Homo sapiens: one gene and its partners. The protein of the gene in region 1 purifies or fractionates together with the protein of each later gene. This does not show direct contact. Each region holds a gene or a part of one and is shown in the gene's direction. Other genes may lie near its edges. The genes, in order: SLC39A3, PLEKHG3, TTC27, TOR1AIP2, BTAF1, ECPAS and CPT1A.

The links.
Region 2: the proteins of SLC39A3 (region 1) and PLEKHG3 purify together in Homo sapiens (affinity purification with mass spectrometry; one large-scale study listed by BioGRID and IntAct). This does not show direct contact.
Region 3: the proteins of SLC39A3 (region 1) and TTC27 purify together in Homo sapiens (affinity purification with mass spectrometry; one large-scale study listed by BioGRID and IntAct). This does not show direct contact.
Region 4: the proteins of SLC39A3 (region 1) and TOR1AIP2 purify together in Homo sapiens (affinity purification with mass spectrometry; one large-scale study listed by BioGRID and IntAct). This does not show direct contact.
Region 5: the proteins of SLC39A3 (region 1) and BTAF1 purify together in Homo sapiens (affinity purification with mass spectrometry; one large-scale study listed by BioGRID and IntAct). This does not show direct contact.
Region 6: the proteins of SLC39A3 (region 1) and ECPAS purify together in Homo sapiens (affinity purification with mass spectrometry; one large-scale study listed by BioGRID and IntAct). This does not show direct contact.
Region 7: the proteins of SLC39A3 (region 1) and CPT1A purify together in Homo sapiens (affinity purification with mass spectrometry; one large-scale study listed by BioGRID and IntAct). This does not show direct contact.

The regions. Positions count from the first base shown.
Region 1 is NC_000019.10:2,734,519-2,737,705, reverse strand, and holds part of SLC39A3 (zinc transporter ZIP3), read left to right. Parts: intron 1-326; 5' UTR 327-448; coding exon 449-658; coding exon of another isoform or gene 659-766; exon of another isoform or gene 767-3,180; intron 3,181-3,187. UniProt on the Homo sapiens protein: Transporter for the divalent cation Zn(2+). Mediates the influx of Zn(2+) into cells from extracellular space. Controls Zn(2+) accumulation into dentate gyrus granule cells in the hippocampus.
Region 2 is NC_000014.9:64,734,929-64,739,118, forward strand, and holds part of PLEKHG3 (pleckstrin homology domain-containing family G member 3), read left to right. Parts: intron 1-1,924; coding exon 1,925-1,963; intron 1,964-2,427; coding exon 2,428-2,447; intron 2,448-3,813; coding exon 3,814-3,927; intron 3,928-4,190. UniProt on the Homo sapiens protein: Plays a role in controlling cell polarity and cell motility by selectively binding newly polymerized actin and activating RAC1 and CDC42 to enhance local actin polymerization.
Region 3 is NC_000002.12:32,665,702-32,669,891, forward strand, and holds part of TTC27 (tetratricopeptide repeat protein 27), read left to right. Parts: intron 1-933; coding exon 934-1,067; intron 1,068-4,190.
Region 4 is NC_000001.11:179,842,819-179,847,008, reverse strand, and holds part of TOR1AIP2 (torsin-1A-interacting protein 2), read left to right. Parts: intron 1-180; coding exon 181-938; 3' UTR 939-4,190. UniProt on the Homo sapiens protein: Required for endoplasmic reticulum integrity. Regulates the distribution of TOR1A between the endoplasmic reticulum and the nuclear envelope as well as induces TOR1A, TOR1B and TOR3A ATPase activity.
Region 5 is NC_000010.11:92,024,262-92,028,451, forward strand, and holds part of BTAF1 (TATA-binding protein-associated factor 172), read left to right. Parts: intron 1-494; coding exon 495-706; intron 707-2,330; coding exon 2,331-2,490; intron 2,491-2,868; coding exon 2,869-3,039; intron 3,040-4,190. UniProt on the Homo sapiens protein: Regulates transcription in association with TATA binding protein (TBP). Removes TBP from the TATA box in an ATP-dependent manner.
Region 6 is NC_000009.12:111,414,734-111,418,923, reverse strand, and holds part of ECPAS (proteasome adapter and scaffold protein ECM29), read left to right. Parts: intron 1-917; coding exon 918-1,041; intron 1,042-2,571; coding exon 2,572-2,652; intron 2,653-4,190. UniProt on the Homo sapiens protein: Adapter/scaffolding protein that binds to the 26S proteasome, motor proteins and other compartment specific proteins. May couple the proteasome to different compartments including endosome, endoplasmic reticulum and centrosome.
Region 7 is NC_000011.10:68,834,984-68,839,173, reverse strand, and holds part of CPT1A (carnitine O-palmitoyltransferase 1, liver isoform), read left to right. Parts: intron 1-4,190. UniProt on the Homo sapiens protein: Catalyzes the transfer of the acyl group of long-chain fatty acid-CoA conjugates onto carnitine, an essential step for the mitochondrial uptake of long-chain fatty acids and their subsequent beta-oxidation in the mitochondrion.

The DNA.
Region 1 (3,187 bases):
GCCAGGTGCAGTGGCTCACGCCTATAATCCTAGCACTTTGGGAGGCCGAGGCAGGCGGATCACGAGGTCAGGAGTTCGAGACCAGCCTGGCCAACATGATGAAACCTCGTCTCTACTACAAATACAAAAAAAATTAGCTGGGAGTGGTGGCGCGTGTCTGTAATCCCAGCTACTAGGCAGGAGAATTGCTTGAATCCAGGAAGCGGAGGTTGCAGTGAGCGGAGATTGCACCATTGCACTCCAGCCTGGCAACAGAGCGAGACTCTGTCTAAAAAAAAAAAAAGAAAAAAGAAAGAAAGCTAATGCAGTGCCCCTGATGTTCACAGTTGCTGGACTGAGACATGAGCCTCCAACTGTGTGGTTGGGCTCGGTAGCACATCGTGGGACTTGGGTGTGCGCCCACAGATGGTTTGGCCCTGCAGTGACCAGAGCAGCCCAAGCCGCCACCATGGTGAAATTGCTAGTGGCCAAAATCCTGTGCATGGTGGGCGTGTTCTTCTTCATGCTGCTCGGCTCCCTGCTCCCCGTGAAGATCATCGAGACAGATTTTGAGAAGGCCCATCGCTCGAAAAAGATCCTCTCTCTCTGCAACACCTTTGGAGGAGGGGTGTTTCTGGCCACGTGCTTCAACGCTCTGCTGCCCGCTGTGAGGGAAAAGGTAAGGGCTCCCTGGGCACTAGCAGCAGCCCTTGGCACCTTATGGCCAAGGGACTCTGATGCATTTTCAACACTGATGCCAAGTTCAGTGAAGGCCTTGATGCTGTAAGGGTGACGGAAAGTAGGAAGTGAATTTGCTGTGTGATTGTGAACTGGTTACTTTCTGTCTCTGTGCTCTACCGGCCAAACAAGGGGTTTGGACCAGACCTGGGATTCCCAACAGGTGGACTTGTCGGTTGTCACCTGATAATCAGACCAGACTACCCACCTAGGTAGGGCACACTCTGTCCTGAAGCTGGAAAGCATGGCCTCTCTTCGGTTCCTATATCAGTCAGCTACTGTTGCGTAACAAATTATAGCAAACTGAGCACCTTAGGACTACAGACGTTTATCATCTCACAGTTTCTGTGAGTCAGGGGTCTGGGCACTGCTTCAGGAGCTCACAAGGCAGCAGTCACAGTGTCTCCTGGGCTGTGGTCTCATCTCAACGTTCAACCGGGGATGGGTCGGCCTCTAAGCTCATGTGGTTGTAAGCCAGGTTCAGTTCCTCATTGGTTGTCAGACCGAAGGTGTCTGTTTGTCAGTGTCTGTTGGCTGGGGCAGCCCTCAGAGCCTGGCCACGTGGACCTCCCCAGCATGATCAGTTCCTTCATCAGCAAATGGAGAAGATGGCCATGACTCTGTGTAAGACAGAGGGCACAGTCCCATGTCATGCAGAGGTGACAGGGTATCCCTTCCCCTCTGCCCCAGTGTCCTGCTGGTTAGAAGCAAGTTCAAGTCCTTCCCATACTCAAGTGGCCAGGACCTCACAGGGTATGGCTGTCAAGAGGCAGGGGCTTCTGGGGCCATCTTGGAGTCTGTCCACCCCAACTCCTGACAGCATCATCCTCTGCTGACCTGTTCCTTGAGCTCCCCCATATCAGCAGCCCAGAGTGTGGGTCCCCTGTCAGGCCACAGTGTGACCAGCCCTGGCCATGCTTGCTGGGTGACCCTGGGTGAGTGGCTTCCTCTCTCTGGGCCAGTGCCAGATGTGACATTGAATTTGTGTTGGTTACATACTTGGTGGAGATATGAGGACCCCCTGTTCTTCCTCCCAACGAAAGCATGGAAGCCCTAAGCTTATCCCCCAACCCCTGGCCCTGCTTTTCCTCGTGCCTAGTGTCCAGAAAGGAGGAGAAGGGCTGTTGTCTGGGATTAAATCATCTGAGCCTGTTAGTGTGGCAGAGTAGAGTTCCAGGGTGGCTCCCTGAGCTTCCAGCCCCTGCTCCGCACGCCCCATGCTCTTCCCTCCCCTCGAGTGTGGGTAGGGCTGGGACTGCCGTGCGTGTCACTCCTGCCATTATGTCAGAATCCCAGCAGAGGGGATGTTGCAGCTGTGATGACCGCCCCAGATCGGTTAGCGCTGAGTTCATCAAAAGGGAGGGGGTGGGCCTGGCCTAATCAGGTGAGCCACTCACCCTCCTGCTGGCCTTGGAGAAGCAAAAAGCCAGGGTGTGCCAGGAGAAGGGCATGAAGCGAGGACCCGAGGGCAGCCTCTCGGTGCCAAGAGCCATCCCCGCCAACAGCCAGCCAGGACACGGGGCCTCAGTCCACAGCCACCAGGAGGTGGACTCTTCCGACCTCCAGTGAGCTTGGAAGAGGACCCTGGGTGTCAGTGAGATCTCAGCCCTGATGACACCCTGCGAGACCTGGAGCGTAGGGCCCAGCTAGCCCGCACCTGGATTTCCACCGTTCAGAGCCGAGACACCGCATTCCTGCTGTTCCGCGTGGCTGAGTCTGCATTCGTTCGTTACGCGGTGTGTGAAGACTGACATCTGCACTGCGAGGATGGAGATCTTGGTCATCTCTGACATCTCCTGCATCGCAGAGGCCACTGCCAGCCCCCCTTTTCCCCCATGGTCATGGTGTCACCCCCGTCACCCTCTGACTGCAGGCCTGGGCGACTGCGGGGAGCTTGCTCTTCCCTCCCCCTCATCACAGTGGCCTTCTCATGGCACCCAAACCTTTCCCGCCGTTCTCCTGTCCTCGGGCTGGTCAGGCGGATGAGGTCCCTACTCCCGAGCCCCCAGCCTCACCCACTGCAGGGCCAGGCTCTCAGTCACCCCTGGAAAATGGTGCCTGGTTCACAGCTCCCGTGCATCTGCCTCATCTCTCCTGATCAACGTCTGTCTCTTGGGAGTAGCTAGAGTTCCTCATGAGCTTGTCCTCAAGCGAGGCATGCATGAGGCCTCCAGCCGGTGGTCAGTGAGGGAGTTAAGTGGCTTCTCCGTGGAAACACAGCCTTCTGCTGCAGCAGAGGCTCACCCAGCGTGAACTGCCCCCAGGGAACACTGGGCGATGCCTGGGGACATTGTGGTTGTCACGATGGGGGGTGCTCCTGGCCTGGAGTGGGTGGAGGCCAGAGACACTGCTCAGCAGCACCCTGCAGTGCCCAGGACGGCCCCGTCCCAGAGAACAATCCAGCCCCGAATGTCAGCACCTTCCCCCTACCCGAGTTGTGAAAATAAAAAATGTTTCCAGACATTGCCAG
Region 2 (4,190 bases), on another chromosome or scaffold:
TTGGTCAGGCTGGTCTCGAACTCCTGACCTCAGGTGATCCACCCGCCTCGGCCTCACAGAGTGCTGGGATTACAGGCATGAGCCATCCCGCCTAGCTGAAATAGACATCTTTCTAAAGCATGTTTTGTACTCTTGAGCCTTTTAAAACAGAAGGTGCTGGCCACCGTTGAACCTTTCCTTTTCTGGAGTTAATGCTACAGCATCACTTAGGGTGTGTGAACTGCCAGATGCTTGAGGGGCCCCAGAGGCTGTGGGTTGCCATAGAGACAGCCTGTGTTTGGTGTGTCGTGCCCCTCTTCACGGTTCTTCTGTAACACTGAAGTATTTGTTTTCATTGGTCTAAGTATGCTTGTCTGTAGTAGCCCTTCTTCCCCTCCTGTCTGTTAGAAAGCGATCGTTCAGGCCAGGTGTGGTGGCTCACTCCTGTAATCCTAGCACCTTGGGAGGCTGAGGTGGGAGGATCACTTGAGTCCAGGAGTTCAAGACCAGCCTGGACAACACAGTGAGGCCTCATCTCTACAAAATTAAAAAGTTAGCTAGGCATGGTGGTGTGCACCTATAGTCCTAGCTACTCTGGAGGCTGAGGTGGGAGGATCACTTGAGCCTGGAAGGCAGAGGTTGCAGTGAATGGATATCGTGCCCCTGCACCCACCCAGCCTGGCTGACAGATGAGACCTTGTTGCAAAAAAACAAAACAAAACAAAACAAAAAAAGAAATCAATCTGTTGAACTTGTGGGAACTGTAGACCACAAAAAGATCAGGAAAGTCACTAGGGAGGGACTTGGGCCACATGCAGGCACTTTACTGCCTGGGCTCAGCCATCTACTCTGACTTCCTTGAGGTTTTTTCTGCTTCTGCTTCCCACTCAGAGAGCTGAGATGAGCTGACAAGTGTATTCTATTGATAATTAAGTTCTATTGTTTAATTTAAATTATGTCTCACTTATTAAATATTCTTGATAAGTTTTAAAATGAAAGAATAGAACATTTTCTACTTTTCACTTTAAAAACAATTAGGCATTTACTTACATTGATACAGATAGTGTATGTATGTTGTGTGTGTCAGCAGAAAAGAGGTTCTTCAACAGGCCTGCCTGCTGAGGAACAGCAAGATACCTTGGTAGACTTTCCTTCTGACTCCAGGTGTGTAGCAAATCATGGCGATCCCTGGGCCTCCCACTTACCGCCAGCTGGGCAAGGATATGGATAGGCGAAGGCCGAGGCTCTGTAGAACTGGACCTTGAGACAAGGTCCTCTTATTCCTGCCCTCCAGTCTCAGGTGTATCCTCAAAAAGGCTGGGGTACACGGTGATGACACCATTGGCCTAATGGATGTGTTTTGTATCCTGTCCCCAGAGCCTGGTCACTCTCCGTACAGCCGGGCAACTCTCCCCAGCGGTCAGCGAGGCTTCGTGATGCCCAGCCTTAAGGGCCGTAGAAAGTCGGGTGCGACCTCTGCTTTCCAGCTGGGATGCTGTGAGGGGCTTGGCAGTGGGTGTAGCTGATGCGCTGATATGCTCATTGCCAGGGAGGCAAGGGGCTTGAGGTGGAGCCAGGGACCTCCGGAGATGTTGCTAGTTGGTCTGAAGGGGGTAGCATGGAACTGAGTCCCCTCCCTATGGCTCCTGCGCGAGGGCCCTGGGCCAGGTGCCCTAATGCATTGCATCATGGGTGGTACTGCTCCGGCAGGGCTGGTAGTCACAGCGGGGGTCCTGGAGATGGATGGGCCCGCCTCCCTGTCCGTAGGTGCAAGGGGGCTCGCCGACACTGTGGAAGGCAGCTTCCCTGGGGCCTATGACTGCAGGGGGCCAAGCCAGAGTGGACTTTGAGCTGGTGATGGGCTGGTGGCGCTGTGAGCTTGGGACCCAGCCAGGCACAGCAGTTTCCTGGCCCGCGCTGACTCTGCTCATGCTTTCCTCCTCAGAGCCAACCAAACACCTGCTCAGGCAACTCAACGAGAAAGGTGAGTGTGTGAGGTGGCCAGCCATTCCCAGTGAGCGGGGGAGGAGGAGGGAGGAGGGGAAGCAGCCGACAACCTGGGGTGTGACCTGAGGGTGGAGGATTGTCAGAATAGTGTAGAGGGAACTCTGCCTCCATTCCCCCCAGAAGAGGGCCTCGCCCCTGGCTGGCTGAGGAGAGGGGCTGGAGCTCTCCCCCATGCACAGGCCTCATGCCCTTTCCTCCGGAAACAATGAGAGCCGAGCAACAGGCACAGACCTGCGCTGCTCTGTGGCCCCTGGGCCCCTGCTCTGTCAGTCATTCTTTTGAAAGCCCAGGAGACTAGGTGAGGGTTCTGGGAGCAGGAGCCCCCAGTGAGGACTTCCCCAGGGAGCTGTCCAGAGGTCTTTTTCCTGCTTACTGATCTCTTCCCCTCCCCTCCCCTGCCCCTCGCCCGTGTGCTGGGGGACCCGGTGGTGATGTCTGCAGCCCGAGCAGCAGGAATGAAGGTAAAGGCCAGTGGGAGGAGGGGACTGGCTGACAGAGGAGGGTGGGACTGCCCAGGTCAGCCCCCGGCCCCTTCAGCCCTCATTGTCTTCATTCATTCAACAAATGCCTACTAAGCACCCACTGTGTACCAGGCTGTGTGGCTTAGGGCCACAGAGATGAATAAGACATGGGCCTTGCCCTGGGGGCCCTTCTGCACCCTCTGCCTAGAACAGCACCCTGCTGGGGGCCTGCCCAGTGTGGACCTACTCAGATTTCCCTCTCCCTAGGGTAGACAAGTAGGCAGGCCTGTTTGGGTTCTGAAGTTTTGACCAGGTCCCAGCCTTTCCACCATGAGAATGCCCACCCCTCCCTGGACCCCAGTGGCAACCTGAGTTGGGCATCTAGGTGTGGCTTTCTGTGTGAAGGCTCCCCCCCCGCAGCTGCCTGCAGGAGGACGGGAGGTTGCCCAAGAGGCTGGTCACGAGGGGGTCTTGTGCTCTGAACAGCATGCAGGCAGTGCTGGAACCCTCCTGGACTTTGGGCAGCCCTCCCGTACTCGGGGCCTGCAGCCAGAGGCTGAAGGGGCTACCCAGGAGGAGGAAGAGGAAGAGGAGGAGGTGGTGGAGGAGGAGGAGGAGGAGGAGGAGGAAGAGCAGGCCTTTCAGGTCTCTCTGGAGGACCTGACAGGGCATGAAGGCAACGAGAAGGGGGCTGGGCCGGAGCCCCCAGGCTCAGAGGAGGAGGAGGAGGAGCAGGAGGAGAGCCTGGCGGTGGCGGAGCAGGTAGCCGACTTTGCCAGCTCCCTGCTGGCCGCCCTCCACTGCTGGCACTATCGGGCCAACGCTTTACTTTTCTCCCGGGGCGCTATGGTGAGGTGTCTCTTCGATCTCCCCTCCTCCTTGCATGCTCCCTGGGATGTGCATGCCCACCCGAGGGCCCCCTCTGCTGCCCTCCTCACCCCACCCTGCCCTGGTTTTACTCCTCCCCTCAGCACTTAACACCATCGCTCGCTGTCACACCCTGGTGAGCCCCTGGCATGCTCTGTTCCAGTACTGGGCACTAATCAATATAACGCCCAACAAGCATGACAAGTGGGGTGGGGTGGTGGGGGCAGGGAGAAGCTAGCACACAGTGGGGCTGGAAAGGTCAAGTCCACTTTGGAGGGACAGAAAGGTGGGCTGAGGTTTTTTGAAGCTGCATGCCTGACAAGGCTTTCCGCAGCCCCAGGCCTGGCAGTTCAGGTTGGCTCTGGAATGGCTCAGGTCCAAGACTGGCTCTCAGCTCAGCCCAGCCCCTTGGGGCGTGGGAGGCACTGCCCGTGTTGGGATGCAGAAGGGATCAGCTTCCAGTTGTCTTGGAGTTGATGACTGACCTCTACCTCTGCAGGGAAAGGGGCGCAGGGAGTCTGAAAGCTCCAGGAGCAGCAGAAGGCCCAGTGGCCGGTCTCCAACCAGTACTGAGAAGCGCATGAGCTTCGAGTCCATTTCTTCCCTGCCAGAGGTGAGCGACCAGCAGGTGGGATGGGGATAGTAGGAAGAACTTGGAGTCCAGATTTTCAAGTCTGCAAATAGGGCTTTCAGGCACAGGCTCTCCCACTGGGCCCATGGGAACAGAGATTCCCCACCTCCCAGGACTCTCAGCCCTGCATGAAGCCTGTTTGGCCTAGAGTATATGGTTTGGTGAGCAGACCACCCCTTTCTATGAAGTAGAGAAAGGCTCCCCTTTGGGCAGATGCAGTCCCATGTCAAGGGCACGCAGCTAGT
Region 3 (4,190 bases), on another chromosome or scaffold:
GGCCAACATGGCAAAACCCGCCTCACTAAAAATACAAAAATTAGCTGGGTGTGGTGGTGCATGCCTGTAATCCCAGCTACTCTGGAGGCTGAGGCAGGAGATTTGCTTGAACCAGGGAGTCGGAGGTTGCAGTGAGCTGAGATCGCACCACTGCACTATAGCCTGGCAACAGAGCAGGACTCCATCTCATAAAAAATAAAATAAAATAAAATAAAAAAGTAAGCTGTATCAAACAATTTCAGTGGCTATCTTCAGCATAACATATTTAAAAGGTTAATGTATGACTTAGAGCCAGACTCATAACAGGATAAAATCCAGACTTTCTAGACTGGTCTTTGTAATCAAGGATCTTTGTAATCTGACCTTGTCCAGAGAGTGGATGTTGGAACTTTTGCTTTTCTTAAAGTGGTTTGAAAACAGCTATTCTGCAGTAAGTTATTTCAGAGACATAATGAAAAAATTTTGGTCTTACATGAAGTCAGATAGTGTAATAAACTGTTGATATAGAACCAAAAGATCCTGGCTTTAAGCTCTGGTTCTGATGCTGAGAAGCCCTGTGATCATGAACAAATGACTGTATTCTTTAGAACTTTTGTTTCTGTCATCTGTGAAAAAGAGATAATAATAGTTCTTCTACCTACAACACTCAATGTGTTACTTTTTTTTTTTTTTTTTAAAGGGTGGTAGTTTGATGCAAAAATTAGTATGTGGACTGTAGTGGCAGAAATCCTGGGTTTGAGTCCTGGTACCAGAGCTTGTTGGCTTTCTAATTTTATAAGTCATTTAAAACCTGAGGCTGGGCCTCAGGACTTTCTTATGTGAAATGGAGAAAATACCTTGTAAACTCTAAAGCACTCTGAAAATATTACTCTTCATGACTGTACAGTAGATCTCATGGGTAAGTCAGTAGATATAATTTTATTGTTTTTTCAGGTGCTTTGGGAAAAAGAACACGGTTCCAGGAAAATTATGTGGCACAACTGATTCTAGATGTAAGAAGGGAAGGGGATGTCCTTTCAAATTGTGAATTCACTCCAGCACCCACTCCTCAGGAACATTTAACCAAGGCAAGTAGGACATTAAGTTATTAAATTCAATTAACACCTGAGTCTAAGAATTTCAATAGCTGAGTACCATAGAAACACTGAATGGGTTGGGGACAGACTTCATTTTATTCTTTCTTTTGCCTTTTAAAGGTTGCTGAGTCAGGGAGAACTGGTGTTTAACTGGTGTTTTTTTTTCCTAACCTGTGATAGAAAAAACTGGTGTTTTTTTTTTCCTAACCTGTATATAGAGATAAATACTGTTTTTCTTCTAGGATTCAATAACTATGAATTAATGATGCAGTTAGTTATGTATTACCCCTCTTGAAGAAATACGAAAGGCAGACTGGGTGTAGACCAGTTTCTCTATCTGCTATCATATTTGTTTCCTTATGTTTGTCTTCTCTTGGAATCTCTTAGGCTTTTTCTAAATATATAAACATTATCAGAATTCCTTTTCACTAGTTTTGTGATCGGCCTTTTGTTTCTCTGTCATTATTGGGGGGGTGGTTGCCTTAGTATGTTTATTTGACATGTCTAGTGAATTCTCTTCTTTAGTTTGAATTATGACTCTTGGTCAGTTTACCTAATTATAGTCCACTCCAGCTGCTTCCATGAAGCCGTTTAGTATTTATGCATGTGTTTTCTGATCCCAGAAACCCCCAACTACTTTTTTTTTTTTTTTTTTTTGAGATGGAGTCTCACTCTATTGCCCAGGCTGGAGTGTAGTGGCGTAATCTCGGCTCAATGCATCCTCCGCCTCCTGGGTTTAAGCGATTCTCCTGCCTCAGCCTCCCGAGTAGCTGGGATTACAGGCATGCACCACCACGCCCGGCTAATTTTGTATTTTTGGTAGAGACAGGGTTTCTCCATGTTGGTCAGGCTGGTCTCGAACTCGCAACCTCAGGTGATCCACCCGTCTCGGCCTCCCAAAGTGCTGGGATTACAGGCGTGAGCCACCACACCTGGCTGTGTTTGTTGTTTTTTAATGTGGAGTTGTTCTATAGAAAAGTATCTCCCAGTGATTGACCTGGCATGGTGGCTCATGCCTGTAATCCCAGCACTTTGGGAGGCTGAAGTGGGTGGATCACTTGAGGTCAGGAGTTCGAGCCCAGTCTGACCAAAATGGTGAAACCCTGTCTCTATTAAAAATACAAAATTAGGCCAGGTGCAGTGGCTCACGCCTGTAATCCCAGCACTTTGGGAGGCCAAGGTGGGTGCACGAGGTCAGGAGATTGAGACCATCCTGGCTAACATGGTGAAACCCCGTCTCTATTAAAAATACAAAAAAAAAAAATTAACCGGGCGTGGTGGCGGGTGCCTGTAGTCCCAGCTACTCAGGAGGCTGAGGCAGGAGAATGGCGTGAATCTGGGAGACGGAGCTTGCAGTGAGCCGAGATCATGCCACTGCACTCCAGCCTGGGTGACAGAGCAAGACTCCGTCTCAAAAAAAAGAAAATAAACAAAAAAACAAAATTAGCCAGTTGTGGTGGTGTGTGCCTGTAATCCCAGCTACTTGGGAGGTTGAGGCAGGAGAATTGCTTGAACCCAGGAGGTGGAGGCTACAATGAGCAATGAGTGCAATTGCATCATTGAACTCCAGCCTGGGCAACAAGAGCAAAACTCCCTTTGAAAAAAAAAAAAAAGAAAAGAAAATTATCTCCTGGTGATAAATAGGATATGATGAGTATTATGAGAAATGTATGAAAATGATGTACCATTTAATACAGAATTTTAATCGTTTTTTTGCTTGTTCTTTCTTTTCTTTTCTCCTTTTCTTCTTTCTTCCCTTCCTCCCTCCCTCCCTCCCTCCCTCCCTTCCTTCCTTCCTTCCTTCCTTCCTTCCTTCCATTTTTAAATGGAGATGAGTTCTCACTATATTGCCCAGGTTTGTTTCAAACTCCTGGGCTCAAGCAATCTTCTTGCCTCAACCTCCCAAAGTGCTGGGATTCACCATGTAATACATGTTACAGGGTTAATGTGGTTAACATTTTTAATATATTACATGTGGCTATCAGAAATTTTTTCAGAATTATTTTATTTTAAAAATTTTGGCTGGGCGTGGTGGCTCACGCCTGTAATCCCAGCACTTTGGGAGGCCGAGGTGGACGGATCATGAGGTCAGGAGATGGAGACCATCCTGGCTAACACAGTGAAACCCCGTCTCTACTAAAAATACAAAGAATTAGCTGGGAGTGGTGGCAGGCGCCTGTAGTCCCAGCTACTCCGGAGTCTGTGGCAGGAGAATGGCGTGAACCCGGGAGGCGGAGCTTGCAGTGAGCTGAGATCGTGCCACTGCACTCCAGGCTGGGCGACAGAGTGAGACTCCATCTCAAAAAAAAAAATAAATCAATAAATAAAAAATAAATTTTACCTGTTTATCTATTTAGAGACCAGGTTATGAGACTGGCTAATTTTTGTATTTTTGGTAGAGATGGGGTTTCACCGTGTTGCCCAGGCTGGTCTCGAACTTCTGGGCTCAAGCCATCCACTTTCCTCAGCCTCCCAAAACTGTTGGGATTATAGGCATGAGCCACTGCACCGGCCAGAATTTAATCTTTTGTATGTGAAATAAAATACATTCAGATAATCTTATGGTCTTTGTTAATTACTACTTGAAGATGGAGAGTACAAGTTGTATGCTGTAGGTATGGATTAGATAGAAACATAGCTTTATTCTAATGGGTGGAAGAGAATTGTTAAGTTGGTTATATATCATATTACCTTGTGTTAAACACATTATTAGATTGTAATATACACCATCTGTTTAATAACCATTTTTCAGGAAAAGGAAAGGAACACTACTATACCATTTATAGTGATTACAAAACATATCCTGATTGGAAATGTTACAACATGGCCCGGTGTGGTGGCTCACGCCTGTAGTCCCAGCACTTTGGGAGGCCGAGGTGGGAGGATCACTTGAGGTCAGGAGTTCGAGACCAACCTGGCCAACATGCCGAAACCCCATCTCTGCTAAAAATAGAAAAGATTATCCGGGCGTGGTGGTGTGTGCCTGTAATTCCAGCTACTTGGGAGGCTGAGGCAGGAGAATCGCCTGAACCCAGGAGGTGGAGGTTGCAGTGAGCCGAGATCATGCTACTGCACTCCAGCCTAGGTGACTAAGTGAGACTTTCTCAAAAAAAA
Region 4 (4,190 bases), on another chromosome or scaffold:
GAGAAGAGATTAGAGAAAAGGTACTTCTGGTGGATTGAAAGTTTAAACAATTTATGCAAAAGAAACTTATTGCTCCTAGTAAAACCTGCTGGTATCTCTGCCTCATTTCAGTTTACCACAGGCTTTGTTTCTGGCTCGTGTTCTCTGTAATTTTCTATTCCTTTTTCATTCTTTTGACAGGCCCTGTGATTCTTGTCGTCCTGGTTGTGGCTGTTGTGGCAAGTTCTGTGAATAGCTACTATTCCTCTCCAGCCCAGCAAGTGCCCAAAAATCCAGCTTTGGAGGCCTTTTTGGCCCAGTTTAGCCAATTGGAAGATAAATTTCCAGGCCAGAGTTCCTTCCTGTGGCAGAGAGGACGGAAGTTTCTCCAGAAGCACCTCAATGCTTCCAACCCCACTGAGCCAGCCACCATCATATTTACAGCAGCTCGGGAGGGAAGAGAGACCCTGAAGTGCCTGAGCCACCATGTTGCAGATGCCTACACCTCTTCCCAGAAAGTCTCTCCCATTCAGATTGATGGGGCTGGAAGGACCTGGCAGGACAGTGACACGGTCAAGCTGTTGGTTGACCTGGAGCTGAGCTATGGGTTTGAGAATGGCCAGAAGGCTGCTGTGGTACACCACTTCGAATCCTTCCCTGCCGGCTCCACTTTGATCTTCTATAAGTATTGTGATCATGAGAATGCTGCCTTTAAAGATGTGGCCCTGGTCCTGACTGTTCTGCTAGAGGAGGAAACATTAGAAGCAAGTGTAGGCCCAAGGGAAACGGAAGAAAAAGTGAGAGACTTACTCTGGGCCAAGTTTACCAACTCTGACACTCCCACCTCCTTCAACCACATGGACTCAGACAAATTGAGTGGGCTGTGGAGCCGAATTTCACACCTGGTACTGCCAGTCCAGCCAGTGAGTAGCATAGAAGAACAGGGGTGCCTTTTCTAAAGCTAAGCACAGAGTTGGTTACAGAAGGTATATGTTTATGAAAAAGTTTGTTTAAAGACCTTCCATTTATATGGAAGGAGGTTGATAAAATAGCTTGAGGAAATAGCCTGAAAAACAAAGATGAGCTTATTTTAGAAACAAGTTTTTATTTTTTATTCCTTGTAAAATCTTTCTAATCTAAGCCTTGACAAAGCTAAAAATTAACCTGACTTTTTTTCTTTGGACCAAATCAGGTTTGAAATATCGATGATATATATGAGAATTTTTTTTAAATTCTAAAATATAGCAACATTGCACAGGAAGATACTCTTACTTCTTAGAGTAACTACAGAGTGATTTTTTTTTTTTCTTGAGTGAGACTCTGAAGAACCTTTTCGATAATGTTTGGACTTGGACTAAAGCAATTAGAATTATGAAGCAATGATAACCTTTAGAAAATTTTTCTATCACATGTTGAATATTTTCAAACCTTACTTTAATAATCTAAAGTTACGGGATTATATCTTATATTAATTTTGCAGTTTTGAGTAGTATGATAAAAGAAATAAGAATTCAAACCATTAAGTACCTACCTAAATACTACATGTAAGGCACTGTGCTTTTATTTCATTCAGCTGAGGTATAAGCAGCTGTACTCAAATGTTCTTAAAAATGAGAACCAGTGGGGAAATTGTTTATAATCATTGGAAATGAAGAAATTCCAATTGGCTATATCTTTACTTCAGCTTTTCTTGAACAATTTACAGCATTGATTTTCAAACTGTGTCTACTGGCACCCTTCCCCTTTGTATCAGAGCAGTTCTGCTTTTAACTGTTTTATATGTTGGGGTTCTCTATGAGATTTCATTGGAACAAAGAGTTTCACTGATATTCGAGTTTGAAAACCATTGATTAAGTGAAAAAACATCTTAGAAGATAGGAAATATGTTTAAAAAATGAATGTATTAAATCTTATGAGTAGGAAGATGAAATACAGGTTTATTGTATAGATACATTATTTATGAAGGATAAAGATCTATACATGAACAGCAGAATGTATAAGCTAGCATTTACTAGCATGTCTCTGATGCTTTTGTTCATTTCTGTTAATCGTCATTTCTGTCCCCTCTGCATGGAATTTTATACTTGTCTAGGGTAAGAGTTTGTAGACTCTTTCAGCAGAACAGATTTTAATAACCAATTTATTTGTTTTATTTTAAAAATTTATTTTTGAATAACCAATTTAATAGTAAATTTTATATGAACATTTGGCATAACTTTACCAGTTTATTTCTATGCAGTGATGGAACATTATGTAATGCAGCTCATTTCTTGACCAACTAGTTATAGAAGTACCATTAGGTTAAAAATTAGAGAAATCTAAGAGATGTTATACTTAGTGAGAGGAAGCAGAAATGGTGGGTAGATTCTCAGAGGTTTTGATGTTCAGTACTGACGGACCATGTTCTGTGATTGTAAGAAAGATTGAAAACAGTTTGTATGGAGATAGAGTTGATTAGCATTTGAGCTCTGAAAGCAGAACTCTAGTAAAATGATCTCGACCTAACAAAGGGTCTGTTCCATTATATAGACTATTACCATAATCCTGGATTATTTCAACTGGGTTTTGGCCTCTCCATTATATGAGATCATATGTATATAGCTAAGAAGTCTGATTAAAGTATGGAAAGATTTTAGGAAACACTAAGAAGATACAGGGATCTTTACTGATACCTAAAAAGATTACAATTGAGTAATTGCTCAATTGAGTGTAGGGGCATACCTGAAGGAAGAATTTGCATTTGGGACTTCGAAGGAAGCTTCCAAGAGATTTGGGAAGAGACCTGAACAAAAAGTTAAAGCATGGTGAATGTGATATCACTGTCAATCCAGTATAAAAGCAGAGGAAGTTGAAGGAAAATCTGTATCCCATATGCACATTTTTTCTGTCTTTTTAGATCTTAGATGCTAGCGTTACATCCACAAAACCAGTGTTGCCTTGTATAACTATTATATTGGCCTGCTGACCTGTGCTACCTCAGATCTGTCAAGGAACCAGTATGTCGCATATTCTTGTTTCTTCATTCAGTTGAATATGGTTTTTCATCATTTCTCTTCAAAATAATTTAGAAAAATAAATTTCTAAAGTCATAATTTTTAATTTAGCCTTTTTAAAAACATTTTCCCTTCCATGTATAGTGCAATCAATTGAGGGTGTTGTCAGTTTTCTGTCTGCTATTTCAAAAGTCTTTTTTTTTTTTTTTTTTTTTTGAGATGGAGTCTCACTCTGACTCCCAGGCTGCAGTGCTGTGGCTTGATCATAGCTCACTGTAGCTTTAAACTCCTGGGCTCAAGCAATCCTCCCACCTTAGCCTCCTGAGTAGCCGGGACTACAAGTGCAGACTACCACACCACTCTACCACACTATTTTGTATAGAGACAGGGTCTTACTGTGTTGCCTAGGCTGGTCTTGAACTCCTGGCCTCAAGTGATCCTCCCACCTCAGCGTCCCAAAGTGTTTGGATTACAGATGTGACCCAATGCACCCAACCAAACTTCTTTTTTTTTTTTTTTTTTTTTTGAGAGAAGGTCTTGCTCTGTCACCCAGGCTGGAATGCAGTGCAGTGGCACAATCTCATCTCACTGTAACCTACACCTCCTGGGTTCAAGTGATTCTTGTGCCTCAGCCTCCCAAGTAGCTGGGATTACAGGCATGCACCACAATGCCCAGCTAATTATTGTATTTTTAATAGAGACGAGGTTTTGCTATGTTGTCCAGGTTGGTCTCGAACTCCTGGCCTCAATTGATCCGCCTGCCTTGGTCTTTCAAAGTGCTAGGATTATAGGCACGAGCCACTGCACCTGGCCTCAAAAATCATTTTTAAAAGAAGCAGTATATTAGCTCTGGGTCTTCTCATGACTAAAATGACTATTTTTAAACATAAGACCATATTTTATAAATGTACAGATAATTCAAATCTATTATCTAATGTATTAGGTTAATTTCTATTTGTTCTATACTTTTTTTTTTTTTTTTTTTTTTGAGATGGAGTCTTGCTCTGTTGCCCAGGCTGGAGTGCAGTGGTGCAATCTTGGCTCACTGCAAGCTCCGCCTCCTGGGTTCATGCCATTCTCCTGCCTCGGCCTTCCAAGTAGCTGGGACTACAGGTGCCCGCCCCGACACCTGGCTAATTTTTAAAAAAATATTTTTAGTAGAGACAGGGTTTCACCGTGTTAGCCAGGATGGTCTCGATCTCCTGACCTCGTGATCCG
Region 5 (4,190 bases), on another chromosome or scaffold:
TCATACATTATTGAATAACCCTTTAGGAACCAGTTTGTCTGCGGCATCTTCTTTGTCATTACTTTCAATAAACATTTATTGAGGCTTTAGTCTCAAGGATTGAGGAAAAGGAAGGTAGGTTTGTTATTAGATAAACTTCTGGGCCGGGTGTGGTGGCTCATGCCTATAATCCTTGCACTTTGGGAGGCCGAGGCAGGAGGGTCACTTGAGCTCAGGAGTTCAAGACCAGCCTGAGCAACATAGTGAGATCTTGAGTCTATAAAAAAAATTAAATGAAAACTTCTGAAGAGGTGATCAGGGAGCTCTAAGCCTGAGCACCTCAAAAACTAGTTCAGTGTGCTGCAGGGTGACAGATTGCAGCCCAAAGTGCTAATCTGCTTTCCAGATTTCAGGTACATTTAACCTTTTCTTGCCACAGAGAGGAATGTCACAGTGAGATTAGTTTTCTGCTTTTATTGAACGCTTATGTAGTTTTTTTTTTTTTTCTTCCTAAGTTGCTGTTGGACTGCGGTTTGGGAAATGGCAGCACTTCCGAGAGTGGCACAGAGTCTGTTGTGGCCCAGCACAGGATACTGATATTCTGTCAGCTGAAAAGCATGCTTGATATAGTAGAGCATGATCTCCTCAAACCTCACTTGCCCTCTGTCACTTATTTGAGATTAGATGGCAGCATACCTCCTGGTCAGAGGCATTCCATTGTTTCCCGGTAAGTGGCTTCTAAGACTCTTATTCATAAATAAATATATTATTACTTACATAGAAGTTTGCCCCATGAAATATTTTCATTGGCTAAATATCTGCAAATGCATTTTTTTAATTGTGTAATTCACCCCAAATAAACCCCTTTTTAACTATAGAACTACATAAATATAATCGAATAGATTATTTGCTTAGCATATGAAAAGGGTGTGACTGTAATAGAAAAGCACTCTGAAGAGCATGAAAGAAATTTAAGGCATCAACCAACAGTAAGGATAACTACTTTCCCCCTTACCTTTTTGGGAGAATTAGGGTGAGAGGAACCAAACAAGTGGCTTAGCTAAAATCTCCATCCTAATCCCTGTTTGTGCACTGAGAACAAGTTGGAATCTGGCCCAGCTAGGAAGCAGAACTGGTGAGTGCAGTGTTCACATGTGGTCTGCAGCCTCTACTTTTAAAATCTCAGTGGTTGCTTTTTTTTTTAAAAAAAAAATGCAGATTCCTAGGTTCTGCTTAGTCCCAAAGCTGCTGACTTCAAGAGTAGCCATTTTTAACAAGCATCCCAGCTGAGCGCGGTGACTCATGCCTGTAATCCCAGCACTTTGGGAGGCCAAGGTGGGTGGATTACTTGAGGTCAGGAGTTCAAGACCAGCCTGGCCAACATGGTGAAACCCTGTCTCTACTAAAAATATAAAAATTAGCTGGATGTGGTGGCACATGCCTGTAATCCCAGCTACTCTGGAGGCTGAGGCAGGAAAATGACTTGAACCCGAGAGGCAGAGTTGCAGTGAGCAGAGATTGGATTGGGCCACTGCACTTCAGCCTGAGCAACAGAGCAAGACTCTGTCTCAAAAAAAAAAAAAAAAAAAAAACAAGCATCCCTAAGAGATCATTAGGCACAATAAAGTTAGAGACCCGGGGAGGGACTTTGGAAGCCGACAGGCTCAGGTTTGACTCCTGGCTCTGCTATTTAAGCAGTGTTCTCTTGAGCCTGTTTATCATTCACACAGCCTCAGTCTCTCTAAAATAGGGATATTGGTAATAATACCCTTATAGAGCTATTGTAACAATTAAATAAAATAATGCATATAAAGTACAAAGACTATTGCTTGACTTGTAGTAAGGATAATAAATCGTAGCTTGGTAGCTGCTATTTTTAATGTTAGTTTTTTCTTTTTCCTAGAAGTTACTAGATATCCTTTGTCAGTGTCTTCTAGGACTAGTACAGTAGTAGCAACCCTAACACTCTCACCTTCTGTCGTCCCTGAATGAAAGTCTAGCCTGTTCTCACACTTCTCTGTCCCCATACTTTAAAGGTTCATAGTTGGGTTTATCTTAATTATAATTAGCATTTAATTATATTTTTGCAAGTTAGTCCTTACCTGATGTTACTAAATTCAATGCAGTTTGCCTTATTTTGTATTTATGAAATTCCTGAATAGCTTTGGAATGCCCTCTTTTACTAAAAACGTTATACATATTGAGAGGATATTTTTCTCAGATGATCATGTAAGTATCCCTATTGTGGATTTTTAAAGCAGCATTTTCATTTGTGCTCTTTAATTTTTATTAACAGTTTCTGTTATAGGACTTAAGAATGGACTAATTTTATTTTTGTTATCTACTTTTAGGTTTAATAATGATCCATCTATAGACGTTCTGTTACTTACCACTCACGTTGGTGGCCTGGGACTTAATTTGACAGGCGCTGACACAGTAGTATTTGTGGAGCATGACTGGAATCCTATGCGAGATCTACAAGCCATGGACCGGGCCCATCGCATTGGGCAGGTAAAAGTCAATTTTACCTCACAGATGTTAACCTGTGCATGAAAATATACTCCCCCAGAAAGATAGGAAACCTTGGTTTAGTTCTTGCTCTGGTGTTAACATACATGTGTTATGACCTTGGACAGATCACTTAACTCTTCTGTGGTATCACTTCCTCATGCATTAAATGAGGTGCTAGCACTTAGGAAAACCTGGATCACTGTTCATCCCTAATATTCTGTGATTGCTGCACACATTTTGAGCTCATGTGGCCAGACAAAATAAAAATCCAACCCTAATTAGGTAGTATAAAATAGTACAAGTCTACAAGCCCTCTGACTCGTTGGAACCTCAAAGCATAATATGTGTTACGGTTGCTTAACTGTTTTTCTTATCCAGAAACGTGTGGTTAACGTATACCGATTGATAACCAGAGGAACATTGGAAGAAAAAATAATGGGGTTGCAGAAATTCAAGATGAACATAGCGAATACTGTTATTAGCCAAGAGAATTCTAGTTTGCAGAGCATGGGGACTGATCAGCTTCTTGATCTGTTTACTCTTGATAAGGTAAAGAACTTACACAATTTGTTGTATCTTTGAGTCACAGGCTTCCTGTGACTGCTAAGTTGAAAGTATTAAAGGAGCAGCAAAATGCGTTTACTTTAGTATCCATGAGATCACCACTGGAGGGAATTTTTGGTGCCTAGATAAATTCTGCAGCATACTAGGGGATGTGTGAAGTTTTGATTTTTTTTTTTCATTGATGTCTTCAGTGTCTTGCCACAAGGTTTCTTTCCTTAGTCCTTTTCTGCTAAAGCACAGCTTATCACTGGAGTCAGTAAGACTCATGGGTGAGAGTTCTTGGCCCTGCCTCCTGTTAACTGGTTACCTTAGGCAGATTATCTCTCTGAGCTTCTATACCTATTTTACTACATGGTTGTGATGTAAGATTATATATGTAAGCAGTCAGAAAGGATATCTAGTGTAGATTCTCAATAAATAGTAGCCATTGTTATTGCAGATGATGGAACTAATACATCAGATAACAATCTATAATCAAAAGGATGCACCACTTGGAAATATTAGTGAGTCTAATATTGTAAAACCAATATAGTTGGATTTAAAGTCCTACATAGGTTCAGAAAATCCACTGCATACTTAGTATAAATTATGGTGGGGTATATGATGATTAAAACTAGCTGTAATAACAGAAGTGTACTTTCAAGTAAGAGAAAATCGTTCTGCCATACTATGTGTATGTTAAACCACATTTGAAATATGTCTAGTTTGGGGAGCTACATTTTAAATGGTAACAAATTAAGTCCCTGGTGGCCAGAATGGAGGCAGGTTCTTCAATCATGTCATATTGAAAGTCAAGATAAAGTTGAAAGAATGAGACATGTTTAACATAGAAAAAAGAAGGCTCAAAGAAACATGCATAGCCGTCTTCAAATAGCTTTTATTCTGTTTGAAGGAATATTCTTATGGGTGACTTTCAGTGACCAGAACTGGGCTCAGAGGGATATTTTAGGGAAATGGCCTATTGCCATAAAAGGCACTATTTAGACAATTGGCAGAATTTGAAAACAGACTGTATATTAGAACATTTTAATATCAGTGTTAGATTTCCTTAATCTGATCTTTATATGGTTATGTAAGAGAATATTCTTGTTCTTAGGAATACATGCTGATTCCTCTCAAAGGATAAAAGGACATGA
Region 6 (4,190 bases), on another chromosome or scaffold:
AGTGGCTTTGGATTGTTAATGTTGATTCTGGTGCTCTGTTGCTTCTTAATTTTTTTACGTTAGTTTCCCAACCAAGGCCAGATGTACTGGGGCCTGGCAGCCAAGGTGTCAGTTCATGTTAGAGCAAGGATTTAAGTCTAGGGAGTTGGACTTCCAAATAGAGCTCTTAACTGCTGTATCTTACTCTGTAAGTGCTGAAAATTGTTTTTGTTTAAGAAACCAAAAACAAAGCATAACTAATTCAACAGTTTTCCTTCTTAGGTTAGAACCATTCAGGTCAAATGAAAATCCTCTGACAACTTAAGGAATTATTTATTAATTCTTTCTTTTCGGCCCTTTATGTGTTGTTTGGAAAATGAGACACAATCAGAGGCAATTGAAGAATTAAAAGGCCTTTATGTGGTATCTGGATAAGACTATTGCTGAGATCAGTCTCTAGGTGGTCTGAAATTGGTTGGGTTTATATTTTTACACTTTAATGTCACTTATGAGTTATTAGTTGTACAGAATTGTAGCTGAATACATAGAGATGTAAGACTTTGGGTGGAGTGTGTAGACCACTGGATAGTCACTGACTTCTAAAATATGTATTATAGTTGTTTATGGTTTAACTCTACGAGGTAAAGCATACACATAGATATTTACATAATAATTTACTTAAAGTACCCTATCTTGTTTTTTAATGTGAGTCAAATTCAAAGATGTAAGCCAGATGAGTCCCCGGACCTCATGCAATTTCTGAAAAGAAGTGATTTCTTATAATGTGTTATGTTGACTCTGCTTAGATAGCCAAGAATGTATTTAAGACATTTTCTGAGAACTCTAGCTGCCAAATAAAATTGCTGTTCTTATTCTTCAAATGATCATTTCCCATTGGTGACATTTATTTTTTATTCTTATTTGTCTTTTTCTGAAAGACGTGAAGAAGTTCATGGAGAAGCACAACGCGTATTAAGGTGTCTTCCAGGTAGAAACAGAAAAGAAAGTACTTCTGAGCAGATGCCTTCCTTCCCAGAAATGGTTTATTACATCCAAGAAAAGGTATGGCATGCAACTTAAGGTAATTAGTCTAAATCATAATGGATGATGAAAATAAAAACATCTTTAAAGTGAAAAATGTAATCACTAGATGTTGACTCATAAAATTTCTTTTTCTTTTCTTTTCTTTTTTTTTTTTGAGATGGAGCTTCGCTCTTGTTGCCCAGGCTGGAGTGCAATGGCACGGTCTTGGCTCACTGCAAACTCCACTACCTGGGTTCAAGTGATTCTCCTGCCCCAGCTCCTGAATAGCTGGGATTATAGGCGCCTGCCACCAAGCCCGGTTAATTTTTTGTATTTTTAGTAGAAACAGTGTTTCACCATGTTGGCCAGGCTGGTCTTGAACTCCTGACCTCAGGTGATCCACCTGCCTTGGCCTCCCAAAGTGCTAGGTTTACAGGCATGAACCACCATGCCCAGCTGACTCATAAAGTTTCTAGCATTAATACTTACAATAAGAAGAAGATACAAAGTGAGGAAAAAAAATTGTAATCCTCACCTGTAATTGATCTGTTTTGCCTAAACTTGAATTACTTATAATTCCTTTCATGCTTGGCAACATTTTGGCTGTGTTAAATATTTTTTCCCTTAATATGACATGCTTAAAAATACATCTCCTTTTTTTAAAATTTTTTTATTTTTTTTTGAGACAGGGTCTTGCTCTGGTCACCCAGGCTAGAGTGCAGTGGTGTGGTCTCAGTTCACTAAAACCTCCACGTCCCAGACTCAAGTGATCCACCCTCCTCAGCCTCCCGATAGCTGGGACTACAGGCGTGCACCACCGTGCCTGGCTAATTTTTTTATTTTTTGTAGAGACAGAGTTTTGCTATATTGCCCACGCTGGTTCTCCTTTTTATTTTTAAGGGCACGCTTTAGGGTAGTGTAAGTTTAAGGATGCTTCAGGGAACAGTTCATGTTCTTCCCACCGTGTTCATAAGAGAGCATCCCATCTGCTTTTGTAAGTTTTTGCTTTTGCACAGTGTTTTCTGCTAGTAGATCCAGGATATTGGCAGTAATGACCATCCACCCCCTCCAGGCCTTGACTCTGTCCCACTTTGCCGGAGGACACCTTCCTACCTTTTACCTCCACTGGTGATCCTAGCTCTTTGCTAGGTAGGCACCTTAAGGGAGTTGAAGGTCAGTATGCAGCGGCCATGATTCTGTTTTCCACATAGCAGCACAGTCTATTTGTGGTCAGAAGATTCTCTGCTTGTAGTTTCCTCCTACTTTGATTATTAATGAAAATAACTGGCATGCAGTGACCTGAGATGACCATATTAGTAGATGTCTGGAATAGGTTTATTATTTTTAAACAAACCAGAACAAACATGGAAAAAGGGCAATACACTTGTCTTTTAGTGTGTGAGGGACATGCACGATCAGCATGGTTAATAGGAAAGTGGAAAATGTTTGATCAGAAAAAGAAGCAAACTTAGGACATGTAGCTAGAAACACAGTTGTTTTTGAGTTGAGGAAGGGCAGGTATGCTTCATTTTTCAGTAATTGTGTCTGTTTTGGACTTTTTAAACTTAGGCTTCTCATCGAATGAAAACTCCAGTCAAGTACATGACCGGGACCACTGTCCTTCCATTTAACCCAGCAGCCTTTGGAGAGGTAGAACTTTCATATATTTCTATTTACTTTTTGTAAGTGTTCTAAAAAGATCACACCACACCCAAAGAGGGGTCTGTCATTTTGTTGTGTTTTAGGTAAACCCATATTGTGGTGTCATTGTTCTTCATCGGGTTGTTTATTTAAAAAAAAAGTATTGGGAAATTGGTATTATTTTAATTCATAGTGAAGTATGTAAATATATTTATCTCAGTGAGATTCTTTTTGTGAAAAAACTGGATGTTCTGTAGTGATTACTATTGGGATTTTGCAGCAAGTTAGATTTGGGTTTTAAAGCCAACCTGTTGTTGAGGTTGTTAGGGTTATTTAGTTTTGAAGGTTGGAGAGGATTAAATTGATCACACTTATTAAGGGAAATTCTGTTTTTTAGATTATTGACTTGCTCTAGGTAAATTACAAGAGGTGATCTTGTTCGGATTAAGAATATTCACAGTGAATTTGCTGCCTATCCTATTTTAACGATCAATGAAAAAGCTTCCAGAGGATGGACTCCTTGGCAGCCTGTTTATGTAAGGGTTGTTTTTTTTGTTTGTTTGGTTTTTTTTTTTTTTGAGAAGGAGTCTCACTCTGTTGCCCGTGCTGGAGTACAGTGAATGGCGTGATCTCGGTTCATTGCAACCTTGCCTCCTGGGCTCAAGTGAACCTCCGTCCCAGTCTCCTGAGTAGCCATGACTACAGGCGTGCACCACCACCCCTGGCTAATTCTGTTATCTTTTTGGTAGAGATGGGTTTCACCATGTTTCCCAGGCTGGTCTTGAACTCCTGAGCTAAAGCAGTCCTCCTGCCTCAGCCTCCCAAAGTGTTGGGATTACAGGCGTGAGCCACTGTGTCTGGTCTATATCAGAGGTTTTTATGGTGTTATATCTATTTTTCTGTAGATGAATTGAACCCATTTTCTCAGATTCTTGTGTCAATGGAGTAAACACAACTGGAATTCTGCAGGAGTAATAGGCCATTTACTTCAGATTTCTTTCCTCTCTCTCTGTCTTTCTCTCTCTCTCACACACACACACACACACACACACGGCTTTTAAAAAATAATGATTTTTATTATAATTTTTAACTTTTATTTTAGGTTCGAGGGTACATGTGAAGGTTTGTTATATAGGTAAATATGTGTCATGGGGGTTTGTTGTATATACTATTTCATTACCCAGATATTAAGCCCAATACCCCATAGTTATCTTTTCTGCTCCTCTCCCTCCTCCCACCCTCTCTCCTCAAGTATACCCCAGTGTCTGTTGTTTGCTTCTTTGCGTTCAGAAGTTCTTATCATCTAACTCCCACTTATAAGTGAGAACATGTGGTATTTGATTTTCTGTTCCTGCGTTAGTTTGCTAAGGATAACAGCCTCCAGCTCCAATTTCTGACTTTAAAAGTTCAGTTTGTATTTTAACAATCTTAAAAAATTCTTTGGATTTGCAAACCTTATTATACAAATTTTGCTCCATTATGGCATATTTTCTGCCTTCCATGAGGATTGGAATAGCTTTATAAAGAAGTGTGGGTGAATCAAAACT
Region 7 (4,190 bases), on another chromosome or scaffold:
CCTTTGTTGGAAAAAATGTTTAGTCACTCTGCATGGTTATTATTGGCAGGCCAGAATTCTGTTGCTGGTGGAAGCCTGAACTTGAATTCCGGAAGAATTGGTGCTTTAAGAATTAAAATGGCTGTTCGAGATTGTTTGTTTAAAGTGTGTTGGAGAGAATCTCTCGAGAATCTCTCCAACACACTTTAAAGAGGCCTCACTTGTCTTCTGCCAGTCTTGAGCTTTTCTTGTGAAGACTTTTGTTTTGTTTTGTTTTTACAAATAAGCGATATAAGCATACGATGCAAAGTTAAAGAGGCACAGATGGGCCCGGCCCCGTGGCTCACGCCTGTAATCTCAATGCTTTGGGAGGCCAAGGTGGGAGGATTGCTTTGAGGCCAGGAATTCGAGACCAACCTGGGCAACAGAGCCAGACCCCTGTCTCTACAAACAATTAGTAGGGCCTGGTGGAGTGCATCTGTGGTCCCAGCTACTCAGGAGGCTGAGGTGGGAGGATGGCTTCAGCCCAGGAGGTGGAGACTGCAGTGAGCTATGATTGCACCACTGCGCTCCAGCCTCGGTGACAGCCAGACCCTGTCTCTGTTTTTTTTTTTTTTTTTTTAAAAAGGTGCAGATACAGAGTAGAGTCCTTCTCACTTGGTTCCCCTCTCCAGATGCCACCACTATTACCAGTTTCTTTGACGACATGTACAGGATATGTTTTTTAAACAAATTGATTGCTTAACACAAGTAAGGACTTTTTTCTGCTTGCTAGCTTCAAATATTTGTTACCTTGTGTAAATTTCAACTTTTACCCCATCCAAATGTCAGGTGAAGGTTGGATCTCCAGCAGGCCCTGGGCTGAGGCCAGCTACCCTATTTGGGTATCTTGACGGCCTCAGAAGTGTCTGCCTTTGCCTTTTTTTTGGTGAGGATTGTTCTTCGGTCCAGGAACGTCTTTGGAAGTTAACAGTGAAAGAAATCATGCTGCTGAGTGAGGCGTGCCCTCTCCAGGGTGTGCAGGAGGGTCACCGTCACCTTGGAGGGTTGGGCAGTAGGGTGGGTACCGCTCTGCTTCCTGAGGGATATAGGTTAGGCATTGGACACCAAGTCCTTTATGTTAAGAAAGGAAGGCTTCATACTCCTGATGCGGGTGGTTTGTGGTACCCAGCCCAGGAGCCGGAGAGCCAGCCTGCATTCTTCCTGTTCCCTAAGCCCCCACATGCAGCCGGGGCTAAGTGCTGCTACTTCTTCCTAACTCACCCTTACATTCACCTTCCTCATTATTTCAGTGGCCCAGAGCAGACATTCAGATATGTGTTGAAGGAATGACAGAACATTTGAGACATCCTTTCTTTTTTTTTCTTTAGTGACAAGGTCTTGCTCTGTTGTCCAGGCTGGAGTGCCGTGGCGCAATCATAGTGCACTCTTGGCCTCAAGCGATCCTCCCACCTCAGCCTCCCAAAGCACTGGGATTACAGGCATAAGCCCCCTCGCCCTGCCCGAAGCACCCTTTTTCCACTCTGGATTGCCATAACCGCCTGACGAGGGGCACTGTTATTCCTGTTTGTGTTATGGGAAGTTCCTGTGAGGGAGGCAGGGAGCAGAGGAGCATTTGGGTCCCCCCTCAATGCACCTTCCTTCATGCTGCTACTGTGGCTGAGGACATCTGGACCCGAGACCACGTCCCTATTCTCTCCCCACAGCAAGCTGCTAGCTCTCTGCAGTGATGTCTGCTTCGCCCACCAGCCCTGGCTCACTCAGGGGGTCCTGTGGTCATCAGGTCACATTGAGTCACCACAGACAGCTTTCCTAACGCTGTGTTCTGATGCCCTGGAGAAACTGTCAGCTAAGCGCAGTGGCTCACGCCTGTAATCCCAGCACTTCTGGAGGCCACGATGGGCGGAACATGAGGTCAGGAGATCGAGACCAGCCTGGCCAACACAGTGAAACCTCGTCTTTACTAAAATACAAAAAGGTAGCTGGGCATGGTGATGCACGCCTGTAATCCCAGCTACTCGGGAGGCTGAGGCAGGGGAATCGCTTGAACCCAGGAGTTGGAGGTTGCAGTGAGCTGAGATCACACCACTGCACTCCAGCCTGGTTGACAGAGCAAGACTCCGTCTCAAAAAAGAAAAGAAAAGAGAAGAGAAGAGACAAAACTGTCATATGCTATCACTGAAATTTGACTTTTTATAAAATGATTCTTCATTTATAAAAGCATTTATCCCTGATTTGCCAACTGTCATCTCCTCTGGTGCCCTGAAAAAGATTTAATACATGGAGGTTTGCTTTCCTTTTTCTTTATTTCCTTCATTCCTTCCTTCCTTCCTTCCTTCCTTCCCTTTCTTTTCTTGGAGATTTTGTTTCATTTTTCTTTCTTTCTCTCTTTTCTTTTCTTATTTTCTTTTCTTTTCTTTCTTTTGAGGAAATCTCACTCTGTTGCCCAGGCTGGAGTGTAGCGGTATGATCTCGGCTCACTGCAGCCTCTGCCTTCTGGGTTCAAGTGATTCTCCTGCCTCAGCCTCCCAAGCAGCTGGGACTACAGGGGCATGCCACCATGCCTGCCTAATTTTTGTATTTTTAGTAGAGATGAGTTTCACCATGTTGGCCAGGCTGGTCTTGAATTCCTGACCTCAGGTGATCTGCCTGACTCACCCTCCCAAAGTGCGGGGATTACAGGCATGAGCCACTGCGCCAGGAGTTTTTTTTTCCGAGGCAGGATCTTGCCTTGGTGCCCAAGCTGGAGTGCAGTGCCGTGGTGCCATCATAGCTCAACGTAATCTCCCATTTGGGCTCAAGGGATCCTCCTTCTTCAGCCTCTTACATAGCTAGGACCACAGGCATATGCCACCACACCTAGCTAATTTTTTATATTTTTTTGTAGAGACAGGCCTCACTATGTTGCCCAGGCTGGTCTTGAACTCCTGGCCTTAAGTGACCCTTTCACCTTGGCCTTGCAAAGCGTTGGGATTCCAGGCATGAGCCACCACGCCGGGCTTCCTGGTTTCTTTATACTTCTTCAAATACACACAGTGGCTCAATGTGATGTCCAGTACAGTTTGCACAAAATACAACCACAGATTGCTAAAAGGTATACATCGAAGTCAGAAGGTATCAAATGCTGGCATTGAGATTTGGCATGGGGTGGGGGTGCAACAGGTAGGAAGAGAAATCCACATTCCTAGAGGGTTTGCATTGGCACCACAGGGCTACAGTTGGAAAGGGACAAAGAACGTGTTCCTGCAGTAAAGACCTAACAGGTGTCAGAGCTGGCTGCCACGTCCTCCTGCAGTTTGCCGGAGGAGGTAAGGGCATCCTGCATACTTTATGTGAGGCAAATACTTGCTCAAGGTCACAGGTCTGAGTAATTGGTAGAGCTGGGATTTGAACCCAGATCTGTGTGTTTTCTTTCCCTTTCCCAGGCTGCTTCCCAGACCACTGGGCAGCCAGAGGGCCTGGGTTTTGGAGGCCCCCACTCCCTACCCCATGCAGACTGGGTGTGGCACTGAATCCGCCTCTAGGGTTTCTGGGTTTCCATTTCCTCATCTGTAAGGTGGTGGGTCTGAACCTGTCATTCCATGTCACACGAGTTTTGTGAGGATCCAATCAGAGGTCAGATGTGAAGAGAGTTTTGAGTGTGTAAAGTAAATACAGGCTCTAGCAAACAATGTCCTGGCTGCAGGCGGCATTTAGGGACACCAATGTATTTTGCAGTCCCCACATTAGAAGTTCAGTTCAAGTTCAGTTTGAATTAGAAGTTCAAGTTGTTATATTCTGTGCAAAGGTGAAGAATATGCATGGGAGATACAGGGGACACCGCTCCTGTTGTCTTAGGGACATTTGTGGGAACAATATACTGGTACGAAGAGGAGGTTTAGGATGTCCTTTGGGCAGGTGCAGGTCTCCTCCTTGCAGTCTGAGCTCCTGCCCGAGTGCCGATGCTGGCTAGAGGCAGGGCAGGCACAGTGGGAAAGAAGTAGCAGCTGTTAAACTTCTGGTGGGCTTCTGAATAGCTAGGTCAGATAACTGGGTCTGTCAATACGTTGGCTATCTTCTTTATAAAATTGTGAATCTTTGTGGCTTTTCCAAATTTTTTTTCTAAGATCATATTTGTCTGTATTTATCTAACCATTACTTATTGACGTGGTGCACTATAAGGTCTAAATTTGAATTGGCTTAATTTTTTTTTTTTTGAGATGGAGTCTCGC